5 separate regions of the Homo sapiens genome follow, and regions 1, 3, 4 and 5 are each linked to region 2. The links come from fine-mapping of genetic effects on gene expression. A gene starts in region 2. Each other region holds a variant in brackets. All regions are shown on one strand. Distances are from middle to middle.

Region 1 (5,104 bases), 170 kb before region 2:
CAGTGCATTCTGTCCCTGGGTACTCTCGAGACTGGAGAATGGCGATGACTTTTACCAAGCATACTGCCTGCAAACACATTTTTAACAAAGCACCTCCTGCACAGCCCTAAATCCATTAAACCTTGAGTCAACACAGCACATGTTTCTGCGGGCACAGGATTGGGGCTGGGGTTACAGATTAACAGCATCTCAAGGCAGAAGAATTTTTCGTAGTACAGAACAAAATGGAGTTTCTTATGTCTTCTTCATTCCACATATACACAGTAACAGTCTGATCTCTTTCTTTCCCCTACAGGTGGCCCCAGGCATCCAAGGTTCCCCAGAGGGTGCTGGGCCAGTCTTGCCCCCGACACACTCGCACAGAGCACTGCTGGTTCTCAGAACATTGCACTGGGCAGTCCTCCCTGAGGACACCCTCCCCGGAGGCCCTAGCTGCCTTCAGGGTGATGGCTTGTTTCAGGCGTCACTCTGAGGCATGGACAGAGCATGTGCACTGGAGAACACACAGGCTACGCACAGGACCACAGGAGTCAAATCCAGGCTCCCCTCTTACTAGCTGTGGAGACTTTAGCGTTTCCTTAACATTGCTGAATTTTATGCCCCTCATCTATACATTGAGGGTAAAAAGACCTACCTGATTTTTTTTTTTTTTTTTTTGAGATGGAGTCTCACTCTGTCGTCCAGGCTGGAGTGCAATGGTGTGATCTCAGCTCACTGCAACCTCTGCCTCCCGGGTTCAAGCGATTCTCCCACCTCAGCCTCCCAAGTAGCCGGAAGTACAGACGCCCGCCACTACACCTGGCTAATTTTTGTATTTTTAGTAGAGACAGGGGTTTCACCATGTTAGTTAGGCTGGTCTCGAACTCCTGACCTCAGGTGATCCGCCCGCCTCCACCTCCCAAAGTGCTGGGATTACAGGCGTGAGCCACCGTGCCTGGCTAGACTTACATGACTTTAAACAATGTAGTTCAGGCAAAATAGCTGCTACTGGCTGGGCACGGTGGCTCAGGCCTGTAATCCCAGCACTTTGGGAGGCCAAGCCAGGTGGATCACCTGAGGTCAGGAGTTCGAGACCAGCCTGGCCAACATGGTGAAACCCCGTCTCTAATAAAAATGCAAAAATTAGCTGGGTGTGGTGGCACATTCCTGTAATCCCAGCTACTCAGGAGGCTGAGGCAGGAGAATCGCTTGAACCCAGGAGGCAGAGGTTGCGGTGAGCCGAGATGGCGCCACTGCACTCCAGCCTGGGCAACAGAGCAAGACTCTGTCTCAAAAAAAAAGACTCTGGTGAATGCTCTGAAAAGGGCCACTGTGGCTGTCATGTGGACCCAGTAGACTAACCCTGATTGCTTAATGCTTACAGTAGCCACACAGCAACACTGGTTGACCAAATTTAAGTGTGAGAGGGAGTGCATCAAATAGTCAACAGGCTGATTTTATGTAGATGATAGCAAGGAAATAATCCAGCTGGTTTTCTTGCCTAGATTGACTGGCTTCTATGGTGTTGAATAGATATAATCTGTGAGTCTCTGTCCATGACAACAGAAATTCATGTGTGTACATAGTATATCATAGTAGGTGCCTGGCACTTCATCAGGCACCTATAAAATGAAGCAATTATTAGTATTAGCCTGTGAAATATTTCCTCCTTTCTTGGCCCACACCATTTCCAAGAGCCAGGATTGGGCTTCTTAGTGTCGCCTGGAAGGAGACCAAGTAATTTCTGTTGGAGTCTTGGGCAGTTTTTTGTTTGTTTGTTTGTTTGTTTGGTTTTTGTTTTGAGATGGAGTCTCACTCTGTCACGAGGCTGGAGTGCAGTGGTGCGATCTCGGCTCACTGTAACTTCCGCCTCCTAGGTTCAATCGATTCCCTTCTGAGTAGCTGGGACTACAGGCGCACGCCACCAGGCCCAGCTAATTTTTCTATTTTTAGTAGAGACGGGGTTTCACCATGTTGGCCAGCATGGTCTCGATCTCCTGACCCCGTGATCCGCCTGCCTCAGCCTCCCAAAGTGCTGGGATTACAGGCGTGAGCCACC[G/A]CGCCTGGCTTCTTGAGCAGTTTTTGAGAAGTCCTTACATCCAGCTAGTAATGAACAAGAGTGACACACTCATTAGTGCATTTATTCACATATTCATGTATTCCACCAATATTCATAGCATGCCCGCTATGTCCCAGGCATTGCATAAGCCAAGGAGCCAACCCAGGCCATCAAGTCAGACACTGACCACGTGGCTGTCTCATCTGCATTAGCCTCATGCGCATTCATCCTATTGTAAACAAAGGCAATCCTAGGGAAATAAGCAACACTGGACCTTCACCAATGTCTCCTCTAACTGCCACCATGTCACTGCCCCAGAGGGTTCTGTGGGAGCCCCTCCTGGGCTCTTCTCAGGCCCAGGCCAGATGACCAAGCTCCCACTCCAGCATCCCCCTTTTTCCTCACTTTGGCCACGGGACTTAGCCTGGTTTTCTTCTCCTAAGTTGCTGCTTCTAACCAACTGTTATGTACCGTAGGGATCCTTACATCCCAGACCAAATGCAGGGTGAGAATGGTCTCCCTGACCTCACATCTTCTTGCTGCCTGCAGATAAGCTCCCAATCCCTTACTCTTTCATGAGTTGGTTTTTTTTCCCATGAGTTGTTGTTTGTTTTTTTTCCATAAGTTTTTGGGGTACAGGTGGTATTTGGCTACATTTCATGAGGTGTTTTGTTTTGTTTTGTTTTAAATGGAGTTTCACTCTGTCGCCCAGGCTGGAGCGCAGTGGCGCAATCTCAGCTCACTGCAACCTCCCCCTTCCGGGTTCAAGAGATTCTCCTGCCTCAGCCTCCTGAGTAGCTGGGATTACAGGCGCCCACCACCACACCTGGCTAATTTTTTGTATGTTTAATAGAGACGGGGTTTCATCATGTTGGCCAGGCTGGTCTGGAACTCCTGACATCAGGTGATGCACCCGCCTCAGCCTCCCAAAGTGCTGAGATTACAGGTGTGAGCCACTGTGCCCGGCCTCATGAGTTTTTAATAATAAAAATGAAAGTAACAAACATGGCAAACTTCTCAAACAACATGGCAGTGCCCTGATTGAGAAATCATTCTCCTTCAAGATGGAAAAATTTTGCCAAGTCCTTACAGCCATTGTCCCAGGTCCATAGTTTGGGGCTGGCTTGCTTACCTACGACTCAGAAGCCTGAAGGTCCAGTTAAGGAAAGGGAGACCTTTGGCTTCTCTAGAGCCCCTACTGGGTGGCATTCATTTCAAAGATCCCACCGCATGTGAGAACAGGTCCCTTAGGCCTTTCCTCTTAGATGCTTCTCTTACTTTTACCTTTCCAAAAACTAGTTGGGGAAAATGTGTTTCTCCTCATGATTGGCCAATGCATTACGGCCAGATGATTGCAAAGTTCTTCTAGTGGGCAGATCAATCAGTACCTGCCACACCCAAAGTTTCCTCCTAAAAGAAACTGTCCTGTTTCATGGCATCGCTGATTGGTCTGTAAACCCAAGGCACCCACGCTGTAAACTGGCCAGCAGCTCATGACGTTGCCTGGCCTGGTAGGAAAAGCTCTTCCCAAACAGTGATAGAGCTGATTGGCTTGGTCATCGGATTGTCTCTTCCTGCACCAGGAAATTCTGGGAGAGAAGCAATTGGTGGGTAACAGGAAGACACTAAGGGCAGCTGAGTCACACCAATGGTGAAAATTAAGAAGCGTTTATTACTGGGTGGGGCGGGGAGCACTGAGATAATCTGATTCCTGTTCATTTCAGTCCCACAGAGGTGGTACTGACTTCTGCAGATGTTGTAAAAGGACCAGATAAAATGCCATCACTGGCACACTTTTCTCTACCTATAACCCTGAGTTAATTAAAATAAAGCACTGATTCATTTCATCATTCTAATCATGTATCGTATGAACATGATAAAAAAAACTTTTGGCTGGGCATGGTGGTTCACACCTGTAATCCCAGCACTTTGGGAGGCCAAGGCAGGTGGATCACAAGGTCAGGAGTTCAAGACCAGCCTGACCAACATGGTGAAACCCCGTCTCTACTAAAAATACAAAAATTAGCCAGGCATGGTGGTGCACACCTGTAATCCCAGCTACTCGGGAGTCTGAGGCAGGAGAATCACTTGAACCCGGGAGGCGGAGGTTGCAGTGAGCCGAGATTGCACCACTGCACTCCAGCCTGGGCAACAGAGTGAGACTCTCTAAAAAAAAAACACACACACACACACACACACACACTTTTAAACATGGTCTCTTACAATCCTAACCCGGGGGGGAAAATTTAGGAATACCTTAGGGAAATGTTCTCATAGCTCAATGTCAGCCCCATTTATCCAAGGCACAAACTATCCAAAGTAAAGTAAAAACCACACAACTGATGGGAAGACACGTCCATTCCTGGAAATATGCTGTACTTTGAAAACATCATCTCATCTAACTTCATAATAGCTTTCCCTGGAAGGTGGGGTGTTTATCAGCCTAATTTTACAAATGAAAAATCTGAATCTCAGAAAATTTAAGTAACTGGTCCACAGCCACATAGCAAATAAGTGACTGACCCAGGGTTTAAACCTAGGTCTGCTTGCCCGTGTTCTTTCTACTCTGCCACTCTGCCTTATAAGAGATCATTAGCAATAACTGGACATGTTTCACATCTAATGTGACCCCAACAATATCATGCTGCCATTGAGAAGAACAAGGTAGTTTCCACACGCAGACCTGCGGCAATGCCCAAAATAGAATGTGAAGTAAAACTAGTAAGATGCGAAACAGGATGTATAGTGTGCCTACGTTGTGTTAGAAAAAATGGAAGCCTGAGTGGGAGTGATATGCATATAGAGACTGCTATATGCATGGAATATGAAGAACAGCAGGACACTGCAAACAGGCAGTGTCACTGCTTCCCTTCCGGGGTTCTGAATTTGGAATGGGAGTATGTTTTATCCATTCAAAAGAATAAATAATTTTTTGCCGGGTGCGGTGGCTCATGCCTGTAATCCCAGCACTTTGGGAGGCCGAGGCGGGCGGATCACCTGAGGTCGGGAGTTCGAGACCAGCCTGGCCAACATGGGGAAACCCCCTCTCTACTAAAAATACAAAAA
Region 2 (5,104 bases):
ACGGAGTCTCACTCTGTCACCTAGGCTGGAGAGCAGTGGCATGATCTCGGCTCACTGCAACCTCCACCTCCCAGGTTCAAGCCTCCAGAGTAGCTGGGATTACAGACATGTGTCACCACGCCCAGCTAATTTTTGCATTTTTTTTTTTTTAGTAGAGATGGGGTTTCACCATGTTGGCCAGGCTGGTTTCGAACTCCCGACCTCAGGTGATCCACCCACCTTGGCCTCCCAAAATGCTGGGATTACAGGCGCGAGCCACCGCGCCCAGCTGCAAGTGATGTTTTTAAAAGGGCAAATAGGCTGGGTGTGGTGTCTCACGCCTGTAATCCCAGCACTTTGGGAGGCTGAGGCGGGCAGATTACGAGATGAGGAGATCGAGACCATTCTGGCTAACGCAGTGAAACCCCGTCTCTACTAAAAATACAGAAAATTAGCCGGGCATGGTGGCACGCGCCTGTAGTCCCAGCTACTCGGGAGGGTGAGGCAGGAGAATCACTTAAACCCAGGAGGCGGAGGTTGCAGTGAGCCAAGATCATACCACTGCACTCCAGCCTGGGCAATAGAGCAAGACTCAGTCTCAAAAGAAAAAAAAAAAGTTTCATTTTGGTGAATATTTGGGTAAACAGTTCAAAGTTGTAGTCTTATCAGAACTTTACCCTTCTTCCCCTTGACTTCCCAAGGCGGCCTACAGGATACAGGGGAAGCCTCAAGGCAGCGGTGGGAGGGGAGATCTGTGTGCGGGATTTCAAGCTATAGCCTGGGTTCTCACTGGCCTCTGCTGCTATGTCTCTGGTGACTTCTGGTCTCCACTGCCCTGCAGGCATCAGCTGCTGAGGTGGTTGGTTGGCAAGCTCATGACCTGTTGCTTTAGCACCTTCAGAGTTTGATGTCTCATCTTTCATCCCCACTCCTCCATCCCCGCTCCTCTCACCAGCTGACTTAGGGGTGCTTCAGCTCCACTGGTATCTTCAGTACTGCCTATCCTTGGGGTCTTAGCTACGTTCTGTAGCCATTCCCTGGCCATCAGCCCACCACAAGGCCTCTGCTTTAGGAAACCTGCCCCCTGGCACAGTGCCTATTGGTCTGTCCATGGCTCTTAACCATGCTACTTTCTGCATGCCAGGCAGGGAGCAACAAGAGAAGTCTGGAATTCTGACATACCTAAATGTGCAAGCTGCAGCGCTCCAGCAGCACTATTGCAGACTCCTCCCAACGCCATGGCCTGCTCCCAAGCCCTACTGTGTGAGCCTTCTCACAGACTTGGACAGCCTTCCAAGCTACACCAAGGGAAGTCAGCTTCTAGCTTTCTTGGCACTTATCTGGGTATTTCTATGCTTTCCACCTCACTGTTAAACCCTAAGAGTAGGGGAACACCAACACACTCATCCTGACCTGTGACCTCACCCCCTTCTCCATGAAATTTGTTTATCTCCCCAGTTCCTATTATCTCTTGAGTCTTAGCTTAAGGTTCAAGGAAGCCTTTCTTAGTTTTTTTTTTTTTTGAGATGGAGTTTCACTTTTGTTGCCCATGTTGGAGTGCAATGGCTCACTGCAACCTCCACCTCCCGAGTTCAAGTGACTGTCCTGCCTCAGCTTCCCAAGTAGTTAGGATTACAGGCATGCCCAAATACACCTGGCTAATTTTTGTATTTTTAGTAGAGACGGGGTTTCACCATGTTGGCCAGGTTGGTCTTGAACTCCTGACCTCAGGTGATCCGCCCGCCTCAGCCTCCCAAAGTGCTGGGATTACAGGCATGAGCCACCGTGCCCAGCCAGGAGGATCTCTCGAGCCCGGAAGTGTGAGACTAGCTGTGGTGATAGTGAGACCTGTCTAAAAAAACCAAAATTAGCCTGGGGGTGGTGGTTCACGCCTGTAATCCCAGCACTTTGGGAGGCTGAGGCGGGTGGATCACCTAAGGTCAGGAGTTCGAGAGCAGCCTGGCCAACATGGTGAAACCCTGTCTCTACTAAAAATACAAAAATCAGCCAGGCGTGGTGGCGCGCGCCTTGTAATCCCAGCTACTTGGGAGGCTGAGGCAGGAGAATCGCTTGAACCCGGGAGGCGGAGGCTGCAGTGAGCCAAGATCATGCCACTGCACTCCAGCCTGGCAACAGAGGGAGACTCTATCTCAAAAAAAAAAAAAAACACAAAAAACAAAACACCACTTATATTTATTATGCGTTGATAAAAACATTAAATACATTAAAAATTTGGTAACATGTATGTAAAGTATAAAAAAAAAAGTGAACTTCCTAAACCCACCACTCAGCTCCAGTAGTAAATCGTTATACAGTGAGAAGGGATTGAAGGGGAACAGAAGTTCCCCAAGACCAGTTGGGAGGCTATTCATAGTCTTGGGCAGAGAGATTACAGGGTCTTGGGTAGGGTGGTAGAGTTACAACGAAAGAGAATGTTGGCCTCAAGTGATATTTAGGTGGAAAACTGGACTTGGATTGTCACTAGCTAGTGTGACTGAGATAAGTCTCAAGCCTTCCCTGCCTCAGTTTCTTCATCTGTAAAATGGGCTAGAAATAACTACTGTTATTTTGTATACCCAGCACTTAGCACATGGGTTGGCACAAAGATGGCACACACAAACATCATAGTCACTATTGTGATTAATAGGGAAGCTCATACACGCCGGCAGAATGAATATTCTGTCAAACTTGGGGTTGAAATTCGCCATCTTCTGGGGCAGGAAAGTGATGGACGACTGTGCCTTTGCAAGAATCGACGCCCACACTGCCCAGGAAGTGCCCTCGCGGGCCGGGGTCCCAGCCCGGACCAGCCCCGCCCCGCCCCGCCCCGCCCTCATCCCTGGGAGCTCCGCCCCGAGGCCGCGCGCGCCGCCGCGCGCGCCCCGACGCGCCCAGCTGCTGACGTGCGGGGCGGAACGCGCCGGGCGGGCTCCACCGCGCCGTGTGCTTCCGCAGGTTGCGGGGGTCGCTGGGGCCTTGTGGCGGGGCAGCTCCGCGGGGCTTCGCCCGCTCTCTCACCTCGCCGTGCTCTCTCGCGGCGGCCGGCGGGGCCCGCGCTGCAGCCGGAGACCCGGAGAAAGGGTGAGTGTTGGCGGGCGCAGGAAGGGACCGGCCGGGAGCGCGCCCCGCTCTCCGGGGCATTGTTTGGGCGGGGGCGGCGCGGGCACGTGCGCGCCCCTCCCCCATCGGCAGGCAGCGCGGCAGCGGGACCCGGTGAGGCCCCGGGGCCGAGGGGAGGGCAGGGAGGATCCCAGGTGCGGGCCGGGGAGCCGCAGAAGCGGGAGCCTGGAATTGGAACGTGAGTTGGGGGCTTCCTCTTCAGCGGGGCGCTGCGCTGAGGGGATACGGGACCCCGAGCCACAGCGGCCGGAGCTTTTAGGATGTTAAGCTCTTGGCCTTGGAGGCAAGATTTGGCCCCAGCACCAGAAAGTCGTGGGTTTACCGAAAGGATCCTGGAATGCCCCTCCAACCTGTCGCCATCCCCACCGGGCCTCCCTGGGATGGAGGGGAGGGGTCAGAGAGGCTTTGGGGGTCCAGGGATGGGGCCGGGGCCAACGCGCCGGAGCTGCGGGCAGTGCGGGGCGGAGTGGAAGCCTCGGAAAGTGAGGACTCCTGCAGGAAAGGCTGGCTTGAAGGGCTGTGGCCAGACTGCAGAAGACAATGAGGTTTTCTCCATCATGAATGTGATTATGTTAAGAAATAGAAACCAGAGGAAGAGAAATGCCATCAGCAATCTTACAGGCCTGACACATCATTTTTTTTTAGTTTGATGTTGGCTAGTATTTTCATCTAAGCATTCAGCAGTTACAGAGTTGACCCACGTTTTCCATTCCCTTTTCTCGCTCACATGTAAAAAATGCGGTATAATATTATATAGAATTCAGCAATATCATTTCCCCTTTCTTAATGAGTAGAGGGTATTCAGCGTAGAAAAATTTAAAAATACAAGCAAAGCCAGAGAAAAATGCCCGCAGTTTTACGATCTAGAGATACTACCCTTGGATGTATATTCCTGTTTGTGTATACTCTTTAAAAGATAGGGCAGATGATGCCCTGATAAGGAGTTTAGTTTTTCCCGGGAAGCCTTTGAAGGTTTTGAGAAGGCGAGTAGCATGATCCGACTGCTATGTAGAGGAAGAGGGCTGGGGAGGAACCTACGAGGTCAGTTACTGTGCTCTTTGCAGTAGCTTGGACTAGGCCCGTGGCAGGGAGATGGGGAAGTATAAACAGATTTTTAAATGTTTTAAGGTAGAATGAACAAGACTTGGATTGGTGAGGGAATGGTGGGAATCTTTGCTTTTTTGATTTTTGTTTTGAGCAACTGAGTAGGTGGTGGTGCTGTTTACTGAGATGAAGAATGGAAGAGAGAAATTTGAGGTGGGAAAAACGAATTCTATTTTAGATGTATTAAATTTTAGATGCATGTTAGTTATGAAGTCGGTGTGTTGAGGCAGTTGGATGTAGAGGGCTGGAACTCAAGGAGGAGAGAGGCTAGAGCTAGAGATAAAAATCTGGGAGTGGCTGGGCGCGGTGCTCACACCTGAAATCCCAGCACTTTGAGAGACCGAGGCGGGTCGCTTGAGCCCAGATATTCTAGACCAGCCTTGGCTACAAGGCAGGAAGGACCCCGTCTCTTAAAAAAAAAAAAAATTGGGAGTGATCTGTACGTAGATGATATTCAAAGGTATGGTGCTGTGTGAGATCACTGAGGGGAAAGAGTGTGGAGAAGTGAAAAGGGCGCAGACACTCAAATACCTCTAGGTCTGGTAGAGGAAGAAGGTTGGGGAAAGGACGCAGGAAACAGCAAGTGAGGTAGGAGAAAAAGCTCCTACCAAAATGGCATGTATCATGGCAGCCAAAAGAGGTGTTTCTGGAAGATGTTGAATTGGTCCTTTTATCAGGGCTTCTGAGATGTTCATTAAGATTGTCAATTGAATTTGGCAACACGGTGGTTATTGGTTTTGGTCATTGGTCTTCCTGTCCATAGTTCTGGAAGTGGGAGGTGGGAACCGGATGTGAGGAAATGAAACTAATGAGTGCAAATTAGAAAAAAAGTGCCCCATTTCCATCTGCCCCAAAACTAAACTTAATCGATGAAAAATGGTGTCTTGTGTTTTTTTCATTT
Region 3 (5,104 bases), 310 kb before region 2:
CCTTTCAGGGTTGTGTCTAGGCTCAAAAAATGCTAGACTTTTAGTCAGAACAGCCTCTCTTCATTCCCAATCAAATGCTTGATGGAAATCCCTTAAATGAGCTAAGAGTAAAAGACAATTCTCCCAGAGAACAAACAACCTCAGCAACGCTCGGGAACCCTTAGAACTAAGACCTTTGTAAGGCTGAATCTTGGAAGAACATCCAAAGGAACATTGGAAGAACATCATGGTGGCAGCTGATGTCAGTAGTTGTCTCTTTTTCTTTCCTCAAAATCTTTTCAGCTCTGTTATTTACAACCACAAAGAAATGTGCTCCTTTGGGAAAGATCAGATTGCACCAAACAGCAAAGGGAATAATATGTATGAGATCCCACCCTCTTCTGGCAGGATAGGCCTCAGCCTGTTCTAGTCCCGGGTGAAGCCTAAGGGGTGAGTGAGATTTGAGTATAACATTCCTCAAGGTTCAAGAGGCTGGACCTTCCCATCAAGACCCCCCCATCAAAATCTGGAAATGCAAATGAATGTGCCCCTTACCTGAAAGAATGGCAAATTGTCTGTGAAGTTGTTCTATTATCTCCACCGCCATCAGGGGTCTGACTTCCTGCTGCATAATTTCATCTGCACAAATGAAATACAAAGTGGGTTAGTTAAACATGTGCAAATTACAAGAAGAAATTAAAAAGAAACAAAGGCAAGTTGTACTATTGGGAAATCTGGGACTTATCAAGAGACGGTGCTGGCACAACATTCCCTTGAGAACTTGATTGCTGAGATCCAGGGCTGTATCTGGATTTGTGTGCTTTGGAGCTTATGCATCTGAGCGTGGAACACATTTCTAGAGCCCCTACCAAGGCTTTGGGAGGGACCAATACAAGGAAAGAACCCTGAAGTTTAAGCTCCAGCAGCTTCACAGAAAACCTGCTGGATGACCTCATTACGAAGGCAGGTATTTGCCTACACCTTTGGGTCTGCAGAAGGACATTTTAAACACAAACAACATAAGTTACTAGAGCTCCTTTCAAAACAGGTCATAAAATCAATCTGGGATTCATGAGGGTTCTTTAATTTTTATTTTCCTCCCTACCTCACTTCCTTCCTCCCCTACTTATCTCCATTCCTTTTTTTCCCCCTTCCAGAATACTTTAAGGGGCCTCTTCCTACTGCTAAATGTATATAAGAAGGCACTTTTTCATTTTTCTATTTAAAGATTCTCCTAACTGAATAATAAGTTATATAGGTTTCCAATGCAAAAATCCAATCCTTTCAAGCACAAATCTACAAAGTTCCTCTAACCCTAGAAAGTGACTTATAAGCCCTGTGATTTGCCCTCATTTCCATTTGGGGAAAAGGAATTAGAGAGAGGGGAGGACCAACTGGAATCTTTCAACCTAGGCTGAAGAGAGGAAGGCATTTTCATGTTATCTCTGCCTAAGATATTATCTTCATTCAATTATTTCCCAGGGAATCTTAAAGAATAAACTGGTGGCTGGGTACTGAGGCCGAGGGGGAAGGACTATTTGAGGCCAGAAGTTTGAGACCAGCCTGGTCAACAGAGTAAGATCTTGTCTCCACAAAAAATTTAAAAATTAGCCAAGCATGGTGATGTATGCCTGCGGTCCCAGCTACTTGGGAGGCTGAGGCAGGAGAATCTCTTGAGTCTAGGAGTTTGAGGCTGTCGTTAGCCATGACTGTGCCACTGCACTCCAGCCTGGACAACAGATGGAGACCCTGTCTCAAAACAAAACAAAACAAAACAAAAACAATAACAAAAAATGAATGAACTGGTTATTGTTTCTACAGGAGTTAAACATCTAGTTAGATTAAGGCATGAACCAAACAACCTGTGCTCTGATGCTAGGTGGGAATTTCCTACTGATTCATTATGGGGTCATGGTAACATTATGATATTCTAGTGTTGACCAATCAGAAGGTAATATTTGGGAAGGTCCTCTCTGAGTCTTGGTCTACTCTCAGCTTTTTGGTGTGGAGGTTAAAGGAGATAATATATATGGAGATGTATATAGAGGGTGCTGAGCAAATGCTAGTTATATCCCTTGTTCTGAACAGACAGGCCTTTCCCAAATTTGCTTTCTAAAAGCCTTTTTTTGTTTTTTTCTGAAAGTCTTGTAAGGGGTGGGCCAAGTGCCAGCTTAAGCCCCAAGATCCCCTTCAATGAATTCCCCCATTGTTTTGGGTAAAGGGGATAAATCTAGACCAGAGCTTCTTCATCCCAATACCACTTCCACCCTGAATTCACTAAAAGTTCAAAGAACTCCTTCGTCACTGTTCATTCGGTGGGTGTAATAACGGCATGGTAGTCACATTTTATAAAAAGGGGGCCTTCTCTGTTAGAAACACAAATTGAAGCATTTAACAGTGAAATGATATGAAGTCTGAGATTTGCTGACAAATACTCCAGCACTCCCCTTCACTAAAACTATGCATGGGGTGGAAGTGGGGGGTAGATGAAACATGCTGACAAAATGTGGATAATTATTGAAGCTGGTTGATGGGTCCACAGGGGTTTGTTACATAATTCTCTTGCTACGTTTCAAATTTTCTGTAATAAAATGTAAAACACAAGTAGACAACAACATAGAGAATTTCAGCAGAAACGGAAGTTATGTAATTAAAGAGTTTTCAGAGTACAATCTCCCAGTGGTCTAGGACAGTGGCATACTCAGAAATAGAGCTTCAGTATTATTTGTTCATACCTGAGCATTTTTTTGATTTCT[C/T]TTTTTTAAGATATAGGATCTTGCTCTGTCACACAGACTAGAGTGCAGTGGCATAATCATAGCTCACTGCAGCCTTGAACTCCTGTGCTCAAGCAGTCCTCCTGCCTTGGGCTCCCAAAGTGCTAGAATTAGAGGCACAAACCACCACGCCTGGCCAAGCAAGCATATTTCAGAGATGATGAACCGAGAGAAAAACAAAAATCATAAGGTGTAATTTATTGTTCTTACATGTCAATATTTGAGGTGTGCTTTAAATTAAACATTTTAAAGATGTAAGATCTGAAAGGGGAGCAGACATTAGCGAAGTCAACGATCCCCACGCCATCTCATTTTTCAAATGACAACATGGAGACCCAGAGAGATCCTAAACTTGCCTGTGGTTACACAACAAATAACTGTAGAGCCCGGATCACCTGACGCTAAGAGGGCAAACCTCGGCCACGCGTGATAGAGTTCCCAGACCCTTGGCCTTGAGTTGCAAAGGCTCCTGCAACCCTGAGAGGCTGACTAGTGTCATGGGAATCTGAGGTTTGCCCATCCCCCCAGCCCCCGACAAGAGACCTTTCTCGCTAGCCTCCTGTGGCTATCAAATGAACAGGACTAAAATTCATAATTTGTTTTTCTAAGAATAGCAATGAGCTGCTTTGCTTTAAGTGCAGGTTTTGCTGAGAGTGCTTGCTCTCCAGCCAGGAAGTGACATGGTTATCCTTGAAGTCTTCCTAGCAAAGGAGCCACATGACCCAACCTGGCCAGCTGCAACAGATCATGAGGCTTTCCCAGACTCATCCTCTGACTCGGCATGGAGATGACTGCAGATACACCCAGCCTTCAGTTGCCTGACACTTGTGGTCCTGTTGGAATAGGGCATGCTCTGTTCTGCCCCCAGTAAAGTACACTTATGCTCTACACCAAGAGACACAAAGATCACCCTGCGGCTGGCAGGCCCTGCCTCCCACTCCTGTATAGGTAGGTAGGGGAGGAAGTACAAGAAGTCTTTGGTTCTGAAAGAACACCTCCACTGCAATGGGAAAGGATCTGCTTCAGATTCAGACAGGCTTGCATGCAAAGGCCCTTTCTGCCACCTTCTAGATAGGTGATCAGGGCAAGTACACTCTGAGTCTCAGTGTTCTCACCAGTAAAAGGGTTTTTCCTTCTCCCAGGAACAGGTGAGCAGAACCATGACCCACCAAGGCGCTGGTGCCTGTTACACACCTGCCCTGGCCTCACAGAGGTCTGTGGAGGCTTCCTGCTTCTTTGCCATTTTTGGCATGCACAGATTAGGGAGAAACTTGTCTCTTTTTTTTTTTTTTTTTTAAGGTGGAGTTTCGCTCTTGTTGCCCAGGCTGGAGTGCAATGGCATGATCTCGGCTCACTGCAACCTCCACCTCCCGGGTTCAAGCGATTCTCCTGCCTCAGCCTCCTGAGTAGCTGGGATTACAGGCACCTGCCACCACGCCCGGCTAATTTTGTATTTTCAGTAGGGACAGGGTTTCTCCATGTTGGTCAGGCTGGTCTCCAACTTCCGACCTCAGGTGATCCACCCACCTCGGCCTCCCAAAGTGCTGGGATTACAGGTGTGAGCCATTGCGCCTGGCAGAAACTTGTCTCTTTGTTACCCACACAAGGCAAAGGGAAGTGATAATTCAATTTCAACACAATTTCTATCCTGGGCAAACAAATATACTAGGGAAAAACTTGTCTCTTTTCTATCCTTGATAAGTACACAGAAGTGTGACTCTATTTTACCCTGAGCCCACAGTTCCAGAAATACAGACGGTATCAAAGGCCAAACACAACCTCCAGACTCTTACGCGATGAAATAATAGTCCAGCATGTCCCATGGGAATTCCACTGCAGGCAGCAAGCAATATCCCTGTGTTGCCCACTTCCCAGGCTGAGAGAGCAGCATGCGCTCTGGAGCCAGGACCTTTGCTAATGACTGGAGCCATCCTCCTTACAACAGAGGGCAGGAAACAGGGCTGATGATATCTCAACACTGTCTGACTGCTGCAACTGCTAAAGGATAAAGGGCAGTGAGACCCTTAGCCTCCCACTCTTGCTCTTCTGAAATTTCTGTCACACTATGATTTAAAAGATTCAAGTATGATCTGAGGGGAAAAAAAGAAAAAGAACTAAATAAATAAATACCTAGGTTAAGGGGGAAAAAGTATGGTCTGGAGCAGAGAACAGCTGCCCCAAGTTTGGCAGACCCTGTGACATTACTGCTTTGCCCAGAGACTCAAGGGGACAGAAGGAACAGAAGGATCTGCCAGTTGATCAAACTAGATCTCAACAACTGAGTTTGCAACAACGCGTAACAAGCCATGAACCAGGATCTCTGCTCTCAGGCGCTGTGTAACAAGACCCTA
Region 4 (5,104 bases), 150 kb before region 2:
CACTGCACCCGACCTCAGAGTCTTTATTTATTCCACTTAGGACAACTATTTGTATACTCACTGCTGAAGTACTAATGCATTAGACTAAAGAGCGCTGGAGGTGCTATATAACATTTAAGATATGCTAATATCCAAAGAATTCTGAATGGCAAAGCACATCTGGCTCCCAGATTTTTGGGTAAGGGATTATGGGGCTTTCTGATAATGTTAACAGTTTTCATTTTGGTGTTATTTGTCTACCTTTTCTCACATGCATATCTTTCCATAGTTTACATGCAATTTTGCATCTTGCTTTGCCCCCTGTTTTCATTATAATATTTTTCCTACGGTGCTCCATGCTTTTCATAATGACTATTTATTATATTGCTACCAATTTCAACAGAGGCATAATATGAAAATCATTCTCTCACTGTGGACATTTAGGTTGCTTCCAGTATTTTGTTTTTATACGTGACGTGGTAATCTTTGCATTAAGCATTTTTTCCCAGTTTGGAATATGGACGGCCTACATTTTTTCAGGCACTTTGCTGGATTCTTTTTATTTCATTCAGTCTTCATAATATCAAGTAGATAGCATGGTGTCCATTTCATCCTTGGGGGAGCTCACTTTGATGGGAAGAGTGGTTTCCCCATGATGTCTAAACTGAAAACAGGCCTCTTCACAGAGAACAGAAATGTGGCTAACAGGTCATTTCCTATGACCCCTCAGCTCCCCAAGACTCTTTTGCTAGTGTAGGCTACATAAGCTGAAAATGAGGAGGAAATGTAAAAATCAGAGCCTCCTTGTGCTCATACACACATGCACAGGCAGGATACTGTTGGAACATTCATTCCAGTTTATGTCTGGGGGCTGAGCTGACAGACCCCCATAGCAGCAAGGACCCAGCATGCCTTAGGACATCAGTCTGGATCAAAGGGTTAAAAAAGAGACAAGGAAGCAGGGTCAGGGTGTGCAAGGTGAAAAGACAGTGCGCTCTGAAAATATATGGGACCTCACTGTGGCTAGAACCAGAAACTGGTTCTCACCATTTGGGAAGCCCAGCTCACTGCAAAATATGGCACACTCTGTAAGTGACAGTGACCTGTGAGGGCAGCCCTGCTGTGATTCCCAGGGTTGGCAGAGGGAGGGGAGTCCTAGTGATGAGGGGAGGGGTTATCAGGCTTTTCTCTGCCCTGTCTCATGACTGGCCCTTCCTTCATGCATAGAAAAGCTTCCAGGCTGAGGCTGAGTCATTAGCAATCTCCTTTGTTGATGCTGCTGCCTGGAATCCTTGTCTGGATTCCTGTCTCACTCCTGTCTTGTACCGCAGTCTCTAGGTCTGGTTCCTTGAGGCTATGTTGAGAGGACTTTACCCGCCAGCTACAAAAATCAGGCATAAGGCCAGGAATGGGAAGGTTATTGTGAGCACAATCTATGCACTTGTTAATCATTATTACATATTAACCAATTACTGCATGGCAGAAAAGTGGGGCAAGAGACTACTCTTAAGCCACATGTAGATGTTGTAATCCTGAGCTTTGTCTCCATAATGGGGTAAGATGTCAGAAAAGAGTCAGAAAGCCCAGGTGATAGAATAAGTGCCAAGAACATATACACCATGGAATACTGTGCAGCCATAAAAAGGAATGAGTTCATGTCCTTTGCAGGGACATGGATGAAGCTGGAAACCATCATTCTCAGCAAACTAACACAGCAACAGAAAACCAAACACCGCATGTTCTCACTCATAAGTGGGAGTTGAACAATGAGAACACATGGACACAGGTAGGGGAACAACACAACCCGTGGCCTGTCGGCGGGTGGGGGACAAGGGGAGGGAGAGCATTAGGAAAAATACTTAATGCATTCAGGGCCTAAAACCTAGATGATGGGTTGATAGGTGCAGCAAACCACCATGGCACGTGTATACCTATGTAACAAACCCGCGCATTCTGCACATGTATCCCAGAACTTAAAGTAAAATTTAAACAAATTTTAAAAAAGAGAATAAGTGCCAAGAAAAACAAGAATGAGTTAAGGCCATGTAGGTCTGTATTAAAAATCTGGCTAACAGCAAATGTGTTGAGGATTGCTGCTGCCACAGTGGGTACACTTGAGAACTCAAGTGAAGCCAATGATTGTAACACCAGGGTCAGGCCCTATATTTTCCACTTTTAATATTTTCCAATATTGTGGATCAGAACCAATATGATAGTAAATATTTCAGCATTATATATCTATAATCCCTTATCTGTAGTTTCAAAATTCCCAAAGTGCTGATAAATGTAAAGTTTTTTGTAACTTATTTCATGGCTAAATCCAACTTGAATGGCACTCGTCAGGTCGGGACACCTGAGTCTTGCTCTGTTGCCCCGGCTGGAGTGCAGTGGCATGATCTTGGCTCACTGCAACCTCCGCCTCCCAGATTCAAGCAATTCTCCTGCTTCAGCCTCCCGAGTAGCTGGGACTACAGGC[A/G]TGTGCCACCACGCCCAGCTAATTTTTTGTATTTTTAGTAGAGATGGGGTTTCACCATGTTAGTGCTTGACTCTTAAATAGGAACAGATATCCAAAGACTACCAGATATTTAAGTATAGCCTCTAAAATAAAAGACAGAGGCCAGGTGTGGTGGCTCATGCTTGTAATCCTAGCACTTTGGGAGGCCGGGTCAGGAGGATCCCTTGAGCCCAGGAGTTTGAAACTATCTGGGCAACATAGGGAGACCTTGTCTCTAGGAAATAAATAAATACATACATAAAATAGAATAAAAGAGACAAAAACAAAGAGAAAAATACAGTGAAAACAAACAGTAAAAAACAAACAAAAACAGAAGAGTGGTTTTTTAAAAAATATAAACCTCAAAGAGATTAAGTGAAAATATGACCTATACAAAACAAGAACAGGATGTTATAAAAAGGAAGCTTCATACATAAAACAAGAAAAAAGTCTTGGAAGTTAAAAACTGAGATTCTCAACAGGTTGGAAGATAAAATTGAGAAAAATCTTCCAGAAAGTAAAACAGAAAGATAAGAGGATGGACAACAGGAGAGAGAAGATGAGAAAGCTAGAGACTGTTCTAGAAGTCCACATCTACTGAATAAGTGATCCAGAAATAGTAAACAAGGAAAACAGTAACCATGTAATTACCAGGCAGTAATATGAGGAAATGTTCAGGATTAAAGGATGTGACTCTCCAGATTAAAAGGGTTCATCAAATGCATAGCATAATGGTTGGAGTAAAACACACATACACACACACACACGCACGCACACACACACCCCTCCAAGGCACATCATTGTGAAATATCAAAATGTTATTTAAAATCAAAGAAAGGCCAGGCGTGGTGGGTGGCTCACAGCTGTAATCCCAGCAATTTGGGAGGCGGAGGTGGGTGGATCACCTGAGGTCAGGAGTTCCAGACCAGCCTGGCCAACATGGTGAAACCCTATCTCTACTAAAAAAATACAAAAATTAGCCGGGCATGGTGGTACATCCTGTGGTCCCAGCTACTTGGGGGGCTGAGGTGGAAGAATTGCTTGAGCCCAGGGAGGCTGCAGTGAGCCATGATCAAGCTGCTGCACTCCAGCCTGGGCAACAGACCAAGACCCTGTCTCAAAACAAAACAAAAATATATGCGAGGCCTTAAAAATTTACTTCCTATGGGCTGGGCGCAGTGGCTCACGCCTGTAATCCCAGCACTTTGGGAGGCCAAGGTGGGTGGATCACGAGGTCAGGAGATTGAAACTATCCTGGCTAACATGGTGAAATCCTGTCTGTACTAAAAATAAAAAAAAATTAGCTGGGCGTGGTGGCGGGCGCCTGTAGTCCCAGCCACTAGGGAGGCTGAGGCAGGAGAATGGCATGAACCCAGGAGGCGGAGCTTGCAATGAGCGGAGATACTGCCACTGCACTCCAGCCTGGGCGACAGAGCAAGACTCTGTCTCAGAAAAAAAAAAAAAAAAAAATTACTTCCCATGCACTCTTTCTTAGGAAGTTATTGGAGAATGTGCTTATCAGGGTAAGATGGTAAACCAGGGAAGAGAAAGATAGGGGTTGAAGGGAGAAGGCTCCATTCAACATAGCAGACAGTCCCGGGGAATGATGGAGAAGCAGGTGAATCCCAGCCAGCGTGCAAATCCAGGGAACATGTGTAACATGATGCAAGGCAGGAGGATTCTGAGGAAATGGAACTGGTAGATTGTTTGATGCATTGGACCATATGAAAGATTTTTGTGAGCCTGTGAGCAAAAGACACCCCAAAACAAAGCAAATGAAAAAATGAGTGAATTAATAACTTCAGGAAAGACAAAAGGTTTACAAGAAAAGAAACGTGATCATTGAGTAATTTGGCTCAACAGAGAACAAGGTTTTCGTGAACATAATAATGTAAACTCTTGTTGTGATAACATTATGTTGAAAGATTACAGGGAAGGAAAGCTTATGGTAAGAGGTTAGGTAAGGATACTAAATCCTTATTTGAAATCAGTGAATGATGTCTAACACTGAAAAATCAAGAAAGAGCAGTATAAGTGTATTTTGCAGAAATATAGAGCTAGTGCCAGAAGAAACAAATAGAAGTTGAAAGTGGTAGCCTTTGGCGCATGAGACAGGGTGGAGGAGGAAATAGGAATTTTTGTTTTTTCATTATAAGCCTTTAAATACTATTTAACGCTTTGTTTACTATTTGCATATCTTTAATAAAAAATAAAATTTAATTTTAAAAAAATACATGAAAAACAGAAAGGCAGTGAAGAGACAGTTCAACAAAAAAAGAACTGCAGATGCCCCTTAAACATACGAAGAGATGTTTGATCTTACTAAAAATAAGAAAAATGCAAATTAAAGCTAAATTGAGATATTCTTTCTCATTTATCAGATTGGTAAAACTTCAGCGGTTGGATGACACCCTCTTTTGGTGATGCCGTGGGGGAACGCAACATGATTCAACCCCAATGAAAGAGAAGTTGCAATAACCGCTAAGACTGCAGATGCATTTGACTCAGCAAACCCCCTTCAAGAAATGCATATGAAAAAAACTCATGTTTCAGGTTATTCATTACAACATTGTTTGTAATAGCAAAATGTGGATTAGAAATAGTCCAGATGTCTGTCCGTAGGGGACTGTT
Region 5 (5,104 bases), 190 kb before region 2:
AGAAAACACCAGGCTCTGGTAAATTCTACTAAACATTTAAGGGTATGTTTGCAGAGTGAATGAATGAACAGTGGATCTAAGGACAACAAAAAAACTAGAAAAGAACACACAGAAAAAGGGAGAAACTCTAAAAGAACCTCAGACAGACAATTCCTGGGCCACGTTTGGCTAAGGCTTCTACCAATGGCCTAATGAAGAAAGCCTGGTAGCTAATCCCAGAACCACTGCATAGTGAGATATATGTATGGGTGTTCATGTGTACAAACTGTTAACAAACTGTCCCTATATCATTACTTCCTCTCCACTAAATTTGTTCTTGTCTTTATAAAGTTCTGAAGAAAAATCTTCTTCAGGAATTGTTAAGGAGAACCAGGTAGATCCAAATGACATGTTTATTCACCGTTCGTAGTACCCATTTAATCATTCAACAAGCATTTACTAATTACTCATTCACTATATAGCAGTCTCAGGACTCTCTTCTAAGATCTAGAGATGTAAAGTGCAATAAGACATATTTCCTACTATAACAAGCTCCCAGTCTAGAGATATTTACATATAATAAATTCAAATCATTGCCATGCAGCAGTTGGTGCTGTGATGGAGCAATGCACCAAGTGCTATGAGAACACGGAGAGTGGCTGGGTGTGGTGGCTCACACCTGTAACCCTAGCACTTTGGGAGGCTGAGATGAGAAGATCACTTAAGCTCAGGAGTTCAAGACCAGCCTGGGCAACATAGTGAGACCTTGTCTCTACAAAATATTTAAAAATTAGCCGGGTGTGGTAGCACATGCCTGTACTCCCAGCTACTTGGATGGCTGAGGTGGGAGGATCACTTAAGCCTGGGAGGTCGAGGCTGCAGTGAGCTATGATTGCACCACTGTACTCCAGCCTGGGCAACAGAGCAAGACCTCCTCTCAAAAATAAATAAATAAATAAATAAATAAATAAATAAATAAATAAATAAAAGGAGAAGTCTCTGGAGAAAGTGATGCTTGGACTGAGTTTTGAAGTAGGAGTAGAAGTCAGCTAGATGAAGAAGAGAAAAGCATTTGAACAACATTCAGATTGACCTGGAGGCAGAAAAAGCACATCCACTTTGGGGAACCACAAGCTGTGCATTAGGACTAGAGCAGAAGTGGGAGGTTGGAGAGGACACTAGAGAAGCAGGCAGGAGATTAATGATGCAAGACCAGGCTCTGGGAACGTAGGCAGGAAGTATGGGCTTTATTCTGAAAGTGATGGGGAGCCAATGAAGAAGGCAAGCCCAGGAGCAAGATGATCAGACTTGAGTTTCAGATCTTTCAGCTGGTGAATAAATTGGAGGGAGGCCAGACTTGGGGGAGGAAGATGAGTTTTGAGAAATTTCCAGAAATTCAGATGGTGAGAGTCTAAATCAAAGTGATGTCAGAGTATATACAAGAGACACAAGATTTCACCAGAGTGGGCAAGGAAGAGCAGCACCCCCATGGAATAGTGACTAGACAGGGCACGTTCTTGTTTTTTTTGTTTTTTGTTTGTTTTGTTTTGCTTTGCTTTTTGAGACAGAGTCTCCCTCTGTTGCCCAGGCTGGAGTGCAGTGGCGTGATCTCGGCTCACTACAACCTCTGCCTCCCGGGTTCAAGTGATCTTCCTGCCTCAGCCTCCCGAGTAGCTGAGACTACAGGTGCATGCCACCATGCCCACCTAATTTTTTTGTATTTTTAAGTAGAGACAGGGTTTCACCATGTTGGCCAGGATGGTCTGGATCTCTTGACCTCGTGATCCACCCGCCCTGGGCCTCCCAAACTGCTGGGATTACAGGTGTGAGCCACCAGGCCCGGCCCAGGGCACATTCTTGTTTGTGCGTGCAGTGTGACCCCCAACCTCCCACCCTTCCACAACTGGGAAGAGGAAGCACGGGCCAGGCATGGTGCTGGGTGATTTCTACATCTCACCTAACGCGCTCAGTAACTGTCTGAACACGTGGGATCGGCCTCATAGATCAGGAATCAGGGCTTCTGGAACTGACCGACTCAGCAATGAACAGGGCAGTGTTTTCTCCTTAATGCCCTAAGGATTTTTGAATCCGCTTTGCTTGCATCTCTGTGAGCCCCTAGCTAACTCCTTACTTCGCTGGTTAAATATAGCACCTCTTATCTTCTACTCACCTCATTGCCAGAAAGGTGGTACATCCTGGCTTCCTGGAGCAGCGGGAAGACCTCTGGGCACTGCCTGATGAGAGGATCTGCTTCCACCGTCTCCACAAAGTACCACGGGTCCAGAAGCGGTAAGCGCACGTTCTCGAGGACATAGGGGAGTAAGCAGAGTCGTTCTGATGGCTTGTGCCGGACCCAGCTCATCACGGTCTCAAACACCTGAGCCTCCTCGGTCACGTAAAGGTCATCACTCTTCAAGATGTGGTGCAGAGTGTCCACGGGCAGGTCAAGAAACTCCTCAGAGTTCAGAATCTGCACAAAGTTTTGAATGATGTAACTCTGAACCTGCTTCTTTAGACTGTCCAGCGAGTGTGTGTCAGCCAGCCTCAGTATTCCAACGCAGTTTTCTGGGTTCAAGGCTTCAGTGAGGAAGCTGGCACAGGCATCCACCATCCGCAGGAACTGATGAAATAGAAAGGGTGGAAAGGAGGCCAGAAAATGGTGAGTCCACAAGGAGGTTTATCAGTGAGTTATGTGTATTAGCCAAAAATTGGAAACAACCTAAATGTCCAACAGTACAGGATGAGCTAAATACATATAATTCATTCATACAGTAGACTTAAAACAATGAGATACTTACTGGACGAGCTAAATACATATAATTCATTCATACAGTCGACAAAACAATGAGATACTTACGGGAGGAGCTAAATACATATAATTCATTCATACAGTCGACTTAAAACAATGAGACACTTACGGGACTAGCTAAATACATATAATTCATTCATACAGTCGA[T/C]AGCTCTGTAGATACTTAAAACACATGTTGTAGAAAATATTAAATGAAATAGAAAATGTTCATAATGTATTGAGTTTTAAAATCTGTTCATTGGATCTGATTAAGCCTCTACATTTACTCAGCAATTTACAGGAAATACAGGGAAAGAGGAACCTGCTAAAGACGTCATGGGAACATGATCAGCAAAATCCAGATTGTGGAAAACTCTACTGAACAACTTGTTCAGTTTCTTCAACAAATACATTACAAGGGGATAAAAGAGAGAGAGAAGGAGAGGGAGAACCTAAAGATAAACAGAGATTTAAGACACATTGACCAATTGCAAAGTATGGATCTTATTTGGATTCCTGATTTAAACAATATATATTTTTTAAAGTTGGAGAAATGTTTACAATGACTAATATTTGGTGCTAATGAAACAATTATGATTCATTTTAGGTGCCATAATGGTTTCATGTTTATGTTGAAGAAGAATCCTTATTTTTTAGAGCTATAAGTGAAATATTTGCAGATAAAATGAGAAAAGCACGTCACAAATCATATGTACATTGTGACCTTATTTTTATAAAGAAAACATACACAGAATAAAGTCATAGAAAGAAGATGAAAGGATGTAGGTCAAAATATTAATGGTTGTTATCTCTTTGGGTTATCAGGTATCTTAAGGCAAATTCTGCTGCAGCAGCAAACAACCCTCACGTCTCAGGGGCTTACAATAAATGTTCCTCTTACCCACTATGTGTTCTTCACGGGGCTCTTCATTCCAGGGGCCAGGAAGATGGAAAGCCCTTACCTGAGACATGCTGGTCCCATGACAGAAGGGGAAAAAGATGGCAGAACCACACAGAGGCTTTTAAAGCTTCTGCTCAGAGGGGGCGCATGCTATATCCATTTACACAAAACCGTCCAGAGTAAGTCACATGGCAAAATTTGTCATCAAGGGAACCATAGTTCTCCCACAGAAACAGGTCTCATGGGATGGACAGGGAATATACTATATAAATAATAGAAGGTATGACACTCTAAGAAGACTATGAGAATTTTTCTGTTTTTGTTTATTTATATGTTTTATTTATTTATATATCCTTTAAAATGAATACGTACCGCTTTTGTCATTAAAAAATCAATTTGTAAAATTATTGATTGGCTCTCAGGTCCCACTTTTAAGTTATCACCATCCTCATAAAAATTCAAGTCCCTTGTGCTTGTAGGGCACTTTACAGATGACAAAGCACTGTTATATCCATTATATTTTGTAATATCCATTTTACAGATGACATGTCTCAAATGCATTGGTTCATTCTTATTTGTTGTTCTCTGGAGCTTAGCTTTGAACAATTTCAACCTCCTAGCTCCCTTCCCCGTCTACTGGACTCCTTATAGGGTCAAGTTCTTGGTGCCCATGGGTTGATCGATTAATGGGGGGAGAGGAAAGGGGAGGCTGAGGGGGCAAGACCTGGTGGGGGTGGGGGAGGCCTTCTGAAGGCAGGTCCTGGTGAGAGTAGGGACAGGACAGACCTGACTGGGGAGGGTTGGCAGGAGCTGTGGGGAGTGGGGCTATCGAGCCTGAAGGTTGATAGTGGGGCAGGACTGGTTCTAAGAGTGGACCAAGGTGACCTAGGCTCTGGACTTTACTCCAGAGCATTCCAGGGAACACATCCCTGACTTTTTGGATCAACCTCTATTGCAAAATATTATCTTTCTGTGTCAGATCACATAGGATTGTCAGTTTAAAAAGCATTTTTTAGGCCGGGCGCGGTGGCTCACGCCTGTAATCCCAGCACTTTGGGAGGCCGAGGCATGCAGATCACCTGAGATCAGGAGTTGGAGACCAGCCTGACCAACATGGAGATACCCCGTCTCTACTAAAAATACAAAATTAGTCAGGCGTGGTGGCACATGCCTGTAATCCCAGCTACTCAGGAGGCTGCAGCAGGAGAATGCTTGAACCTGGGAGGCGGAGGTTGCGGTTAGCTGATATCGTGTCATTGCACTCTAGCCCGGGCAACAAGAGCAAAACTCCATCTCAAAATAAATAAATAAATAAATAAATAAAGCATTTCTCCGAGGGTCAATGCTGAAGGGGGCCAGCCCCTCTACACCTGTGGGTATTTCTCGTCAGGTGGGACGAGAGACTGAGAAAAGAAATAAGACACAGAGGCAAAGTA

Alleles and levels. Positions count from the first base shown, and alleles are read on the strand shown. Sizes are in standard deviations (SD) of each study's normalised expression. Not every link is listed here.
With allele C in place of T in region 3, the expression in CD8 T cells of the gene that starts at base 2,864 in region 2 is lower (large effect, 1.0 SD a copy in CEDAR).

Evidence for each region.
Region 1: its variant is fine-mapped to the expression of YEATS2 in lung (TOPMed, PIP above 0.99).
Region 3: its variant is fine-mapped to the expression of YEATS2 in CD8 T cells (CEDAR, PIP 0.95).
Region 4: its variant is fine-mapped to the expression of YEATS2 in thyroid (GTEx, PIP above 0.99). The same link has a PIP of 0.9 or more in lung.
Region 5: its variant is fine-mapped to the expression of YEATS2 in lung (TOPMed, PIP above 0.99). The same link has a PIP of 0.9 or more in thyroid.

The regions. Positions count from the first base shown.
Region 1 is chr3:183,521,055-183,526,158 of GRCh38, forward strand. All of the region lies in intron 2 of KLHL6 (kelch like family member 6), which reads right to left. Among named protein-coding and RNA genes, the nearest start is that of KLHL6-AS1, 25 kb to the right of the region's middle. The variant G/A (reference allele first, on the strand shown) is at 2,039.
Region 2 is chr3:183,694,934-183,700,037 of GRCh38, forward strand. It overlaps YEATS2 (YEATS domain containing 2), which reads left to right and starts at 2,864. Exons shown (of 31, transcript NM_018023.5): 1 at 2,864-3,060. RefSeq lists a silencer at 2,769-3,238.
Region 3 is chr3:183,389,162-183,394,265 of GRCh38, forward strand. MCF2L2 (MCF.2 cell line derived transforming sequence-like 2) reads right to left here. Exons shown (of 30, transcript NM_015078.4): 2 at 535-618. Among named protein-coding and RNA genes, the nearest start is that of MCF2L2, 37 kb to the right of the region's middle. The variant C/T (reference allele first, on the strand shown) is at 2,736.
Region 4 is chr3:183,547,199-183,552,302 of GRCh38, forward strand. The region is part of intron 1 of KLHL6 (kelch like family member 6); the gene reads right to left. KLHL6-AS1 (KLHL6 antisense RNA 1) reads left to right here and starts at 1,537. Exons shown (of 2, transcript NR_046687.1): 1 at 1,537-1,765; 2 at 4,855-5,104. The variant A/G (reference allele first, on the strand shown) is at 2,456.
Region 5 is chr3:183,505,910-183,511,013 of GRCh38, forward strand. KLHL6 (kelch like family member 6) reads right to left here. Exons shown (of 7, transcript NM_130446.4): 3 at 2,150-2,599. Among named protein-coding and RNA genes, the nearest start is that of KLHL6-AS1, 40 kb to the right of the region's middle. RefSeq lists an enhancer at 1,919-3,118. The variant T/C (reference allele first, on the strand shown) is at 2,937.